Regions from separate parts of the Homo sapiens genome. Here region 1 is linked to region 2. The links come from fine-mapping of genetic effects on gene expression. A gene starts in region 2. The other region holds a variant in brackets. All regions are shown on one strand. Distances are from middle to middle.

Region 1 (2,907 bases), 35 kb before region 2:
CTTCTGATTGCTGGACTGACTCTCTCGCCCTCTCTTGGTGCAGCCCTCGGGAGGCTCAGTCACACTCTCCGAGAGCACAGCCATCATCTCCCATGGCATCACAGGCCTGGTCACATGAGATGCTGCCCTCTACCTGGCAGAATGGGCCATCGAGAACCCGGCAGCCTTCTCTCATAGGTGACCTCGGGGCGCACGGCAGGACACCGAGGCAGGCTCACCCTGGTGCAGTTACAGACATGGTCCCCTTTCCTCCCGCCAGGACTGTCCTAGAGCTTGGCAGTGGCGCCAGCCTCACAGGCCTGGCCATCTGCAAGATGTGCCGCCTCCAGGCATACATCTTCAGCGACTGTCACAGCCAGGTCCTCGAGAAGCTCCGAGGGAATGTCCTTCTCAATGGCCTCTCATTAGAGGCAGACATCTCTGCCAACTTAGACAGCCCCAGGGTGACAGTGGCCCAGCTGGACTGGGACGTCGCGACGGTCCATCAGCTCTCTGCCATCCAGCCAGATGTTGTCATTGCAGCAGGCAATGCCCAGCCCCGGGCACTCTGTGCAGGCGGTGTCCTTGCAGCTCTACCCAGCTCTGGGCTCTGGGAAAAGGGAACAATGGACGCTGTCGGGCATGGACATGATGGGGCTTCCAGAAGAGTTACTCTGGGCCTCCAGGGTGACATCAAAGGACAGGGGTGCCTCTTAAGGTGACCTTCCAGCCACAGCCCTCTTGTTGGAGACAGGCATACTCCCATTACAGTCATCACCACATGGCTCTGTCCCAGAGCCATGCCTCTGTCTTTCAGAGACCACAGGAGGAAAACAACCACTTCTGGGATGAGGACAGGGCCCTTGAGAGAAGGTGGTGTTTGGCTGGGCCACCGAAAACCCCTCGCCCCTGCCAGCACACTCGGTCTCCTCTCTGGTTGAACAGAGCTCTGCCTGTGGTCCTGGGTCCCAGCCCTGAAACCCACAGGTCCAGCGGTGGCCAGGGACACAGGCCCACCCCTGCAAGCCAGCAGACAAATCGGCAGACACCTGAAACACGAAGTTCATGGCAGGGTCAGGCTTTGTGTCATTCACAGCCCTCTAGATAGGCCGAGAACCAGAGCTCATTTTTTAAGGAACACCAGTGAGTCTGGAGATTTTTTTCTTTTGCTTCGGTCTTTTGCAGCTTTCTCTACTAAGGGTTCTCCTTTTTCACCCAAGCAATTGCCTTTCCATCTAATGGCCCAAATGGTCAAATGGCATCTACTAGTCTCATATGACTGCTGCCTCTCTGGCCTCGCCCTGCTGCTGAGGTCAGCATGACCTGGAACTGTCCGCTGGTCCCTTTCAGTAACCTGAAGCTTTCACCGTAGACGTGCTGTATTGCCCAGAATCCATCGTGTCGCTGGTCGCGGTCCTGCGGAGGCTGGCTGCCTACCGGGAGCACCAGCGGGCTCCTCAAGTCTACGTGGCCCTTATCGTCCGCAACCCAGAGACGTGCCAGCTGTTCACCACCGAGCTATGTGAGCCCACACGCCCACCCGGGCCTGCATGGTCCCCGAGCTGTCCCTGCGGGACTCCAGTGGAAGTGAAAGAACTGGGGGCC[G/A]AGGAAAAGCTAGGATGCCCCACACTCCCACACCATGCGGGGAACTAGGGCAGAGGCCGGTGAGCAGGGTGGGCCTGGGGCGTGGGAGCTTGCGGCAGGAGGAGGGCAGCTCAGCACAGGGAGGGAGGATCTGAGCCCAGCAGCCCTACTGTGTGCTTCAGAGCAGGGTTCCCTAAGCCCTTGGGCGTCGGTTTCCTCATCTATAAAATGGAGGTGGTGGGAGGGGCAGTCGGGGTCAGGGCTGGACACAGCTGTGGCCTGCAGGACGCTGGAGCACAGGCTGTACAGGCGGATCCACCACGCCACTGTCCTGAGCACCCAGTTGATGGAAGACGAGCAGGGTGACTATAGAGAAGGGGAATTGTCCCCGTAGTGGGCCAGCCACTGTCCTCAGACCTGACATTTGTCAGCCCCCAGCACCTGTGAGAGTGTGCTATCATTGTCCCATCTCACCGACAAAGACACTAGGACACACAGAGGCCAAGCAACCCCTGAGCTCCCACAGACTGCAGCTCGGCCACCTGGCTCTCGTGCCTCCACACTACACCCAAGCCCCCCATTGCCACCAGCCTTTGCCCCAGATCACCCTGAGCACAGCCCCTCCTGGCAGCCATGTGCACAGATGCACGCGCAGCAGCCTCTGCCTGCACACAGAGACGTGGGTCCAATGCCTGTCCACGTGGGGCAGCGCGTTAACTACAGAGCCAACAAACAAGCCAGCACACGAAGGCATACTGGGTTCCACGACAAAGTCCTGCACAACCTCGCACAGGAGGCTGGCCGGGCGCGGGGCTCAGGCCTGTCAACCCAGCACTTTAGGAGGCTAAGGCAGGGGGACTTCTTGACACCACGATTTCAAGACCAACCTGGGCAACATAGTGGGACCCCATCTCCACAAAACATTCAGAAACTAGCCGGGCATGGTTGCGCACACCTGTAGTCCCAGCTACTCGGGAGGCTGAGGTGGGAGGATAGCTTGAGCCCAGGAGGTGGAGGCTGCAGTGAGCCCTGATCTCACCACTGCACTCTAGCCTGGGCAACAGAGCAAGACCCTGTCTCAAAAAGGCAAAAAAAAAAAAAAAAAAAGGAAGTCTTTCTTCAGATACTTATGTGAAAAAATAACTGCAATATCTTTGAAGTGAAAAAAACAGTGCCAAGCAGAACACATAGTATAAGCCCCCACCCACCTTTTTTTTTTTTTTTTTTTTTTTTTTTTTTGGAGACAGTCTGGCTTTGTATTGCCCAGGCTGGAGTGCAGTGGTGCCACGGCCCACTGCAACCTCCCACCTCCCAGGTTCAAGCTATCCTCCCATCTCAGCCTCC
Region 2 (2,907 bases):
TGTTCCGTCATACAGAAATGCATGTACACATGTATATATGTGATTGGTGCTTTTACTCACACAGCCCCCCAACCACGGGAAGAAACAGACAATCACAGCTTGATCATTAGGGCTAAGGCCAAATAGCAAGATAAGTCTGCCTCTAGTCTATTTCCTCCATATCTAAATGTTGGAGGTCAAGGCTATGGACAGATCTGAAGATGTGTTCTCTCCTCTTAGGGCCCCATTATTGATGGGCAGCAGTCCTCTACCCGTGGATATTTTCTTTTGCTTTCCCCTATGCTCTCTAGGATCACCATCTCGTCCACCCTTCGACCGGAGGAGAGATGTTTGTAGCAAGAGGCTGTTCCCTCACCTCTGGCTGAAAAGGGACTTTCAGACCCTCCACTTCCTGACATAAGGGAGGTTAGACCTCAGAGCTGCACTTTAGTGTGGCAGCTATTGATCATGTGTGGCTATTGAATAACAGGAATACAGCTGGTCTGAACTGAAATGTGCTGAAAAGGTAAAATACAGAGTGAGCTTCAAAGATTTAGTACCCCAAAATATATACTTCCTTACCAATTGTATATTGACCATAGAGGAAAATGGTTACATACTGGGTTAAATTATTACAATCAACTTCACCTGTTTCTTAGTACATTTTAAAACGTGGCTACTAGAAAATTTAAGATTCACACATGGCTTACATTTTAATTCTTAGAGGCTTGAATCCTTTTTGAAATTTCAGGCTGTCTGTTCAAAGGACCAAAAGCCAGGAAGGCCATAAAATATAAAAATTCAAAATGATTGTCTTTATTTTCTTCTTTCCATTGGTGAATAACATATATTTATTATTTATAAATAAACATAACCGCAGTCACAAGATGAAATGTAAATATCCTCTAGGTGGGGCCGGACAGCGCAGGCAGGAAGCCCCGCTCCAAAAGATCGCGGCCAGCACCTGTCCTTGCTGTCTCATTCGGCCCATTGTCTGATTACAGCTCCTGTCACTCAGGGCCTGAGGGGGCGGGGCGTGATGCCCTATCCAATCAGAGGAGTAGGGGCGGGGACTGTCCAATCAGGCACATGTCTGGAGAGGAGAGGACGGCTTCCGGGATCTAGCGGGGCCTTTGTCCCGACAGAGCTCCACTTCCTGTCCCCGCGGCTCTGTGTCCCCTGCTAGCCGTAGGTCGTGTGACCCGCAGGCACCGGGAGATCCAGAAGTGAAACGCCAGGCTCTCTGGAGGCCAGGAGATGGTGAGTGTAGGGGCCAGGCCTCCTGAGAGACAGGGAGGGGCGGACTGGAACCCGCGGTACCGGCTCGGGAGGAACCGGGCTGCCCGGGTGGGTTCCGGGCTCCGCGGACCCGAGGCCCCTCCAGCTGCACCATGGCGGCCGGGCCCCGCGCGCCCCGGCGCATCCCTGCAGAGCGGCTTTGGCCCAAGCCCAGAGCCATGTCCCCCCGGCAGCTCTTCGCCCGCAGACCCTCGTCTCCCCGAGTCAGGAAGGGAGAATCCCGACTCCGTGGGTGGTTTGTGCATAAGAGGATGATCTGTAGCCCGTGGGGGCCCCAGTCCCTCCTTTCTCTCGAGGGAGTCCTTGCAAAAATGTGAAAGAGTTTTATTTGAGCAAAGAGCGATTCATGAATGGCAGAGGACCCAACCATGTTTTTTGGGTTTGGAGGTCCCACCAGCCGGCCTTGAAGGAAAGGCTTTTATCAGGTGCATGAGGAAGCAAACCACATTCATTCATTAGTTCGGTACAGTTACGTCATCTCCTGATTTCAGCTATCTAGGCTGAAATTTTCTGGTCCTGTAATCAGAAGTTAATTAGAGGTTTGTGGTTGACGAAGCCTGAATTTTGTTTCTGCAAGATAGTCATTTGCAAGAAACGCATCTGAGTTAGATTTTTTTTTTTAACCTAAGAACCCAGGGCACTAGAGCCACCTCAGTCGGATTGCCTGCTATTTAATTATTATTATTTTTGAGATGGAGTCTCGCTCTGTCCCCCAGGCTGGAGTGCAGTGGCGCGATCTCGGCTCACTGCAACCTCTGCCTCCCGGGTTCAATCAATTCTCCTGCCTCAGCCTCCCGAGTAGCTGAGATTACAGTCCTGCACCACCACGCCCGGCTAATTTTTGTATTTTTAGTAGAGACGGGGTTTCACCATGTTGGCCAGGCTGGTCTTGAACTCCTGACCTCATGTGATCCGCCTGCCTTGGCCTCCCAAAGTGCTGGGATTACAGTCGTGAGCCACTGCGCCCAGCCTGGACGGCACTTTTTAAGAGATTTGTTTTCTGTTTGTAATCATTCCACGTGACAGGAAAGCAGAGAATCATCCCCTGACGCTATTGTAAAAAGTCTTTGTGCCTCTCCTCCTTTTTATTTTCCCTAGGCACAGACACCTTACCAGAATGTCTTTGGTTTGAGGTTCCACTTTGGAAACTTGACAGGGTGATTTGCTCTCAGCCACCCTCTGGACTTTTTCCTCAGTTTCAGTATTGTCCAGGGATAACACAGGATGCCCACCATGGCCATGTCTGCTGGAGCATCTAGTGAATTTCAGGCCCTGGGTTATTTCTCAGAGGACAGCCTGAGGTATGAAGTGTGGCCTCTCCAGGGAGCAGCTGGATGCCCTGGGCTGAGAGAAATCTCCTGGTCTACTCTTCCTCTAAAGAGGTAACCACTTAGGACATTAAGATTGTCTTCACCCAACCCAACTTTCAATCCCTGGAGACACATGGCTGATCAGCCAATCACATGCCCCTGTCAGAGGGAAAAGACCGAAATCATTTCTGCCCTTTGGACTCTCAGATTTGTGAAGGGAGACAGAATGTTTCAAAGAGCAAGAAAAACTCCACCCCGTGAGATGGTGCAAAACCTGTAAAGCAAAATTCACCTGGGACACTCAGCGGGGCACAGTGCA

The links.
Region 1: its variant is fine-mapped to the expression of ZNF195 in fibroblasts (GTEx, PIP 0.97).

Annotation. Positions count from the first base shown.
Region 1 is chr11:3,412,449-3,415,355 of GRCh38, reverse strand. It overlaps the pseudogene FAM86GP. Among named protein-coding and RNA genes, the nearest start is that of ZNF195, 35 kb to the right of the region's middle. The variant G/A (reference allele first, on the strand shown) is at 1,585.
Region 2 is chr11:3,377,370-3,380,276 of GRCh38, reverse strand. ZNF195 (zinc finger protein 195) reads left to right here and starts at 1,131. Exons shown (of 6, transcript NM_001130520.3): 1 at 1,131-1,239. The coding sequence starts at 1,237. RefSeq lists enhancers at 884-1,178, 867-1,430 and a silencer at 1,356-1,425.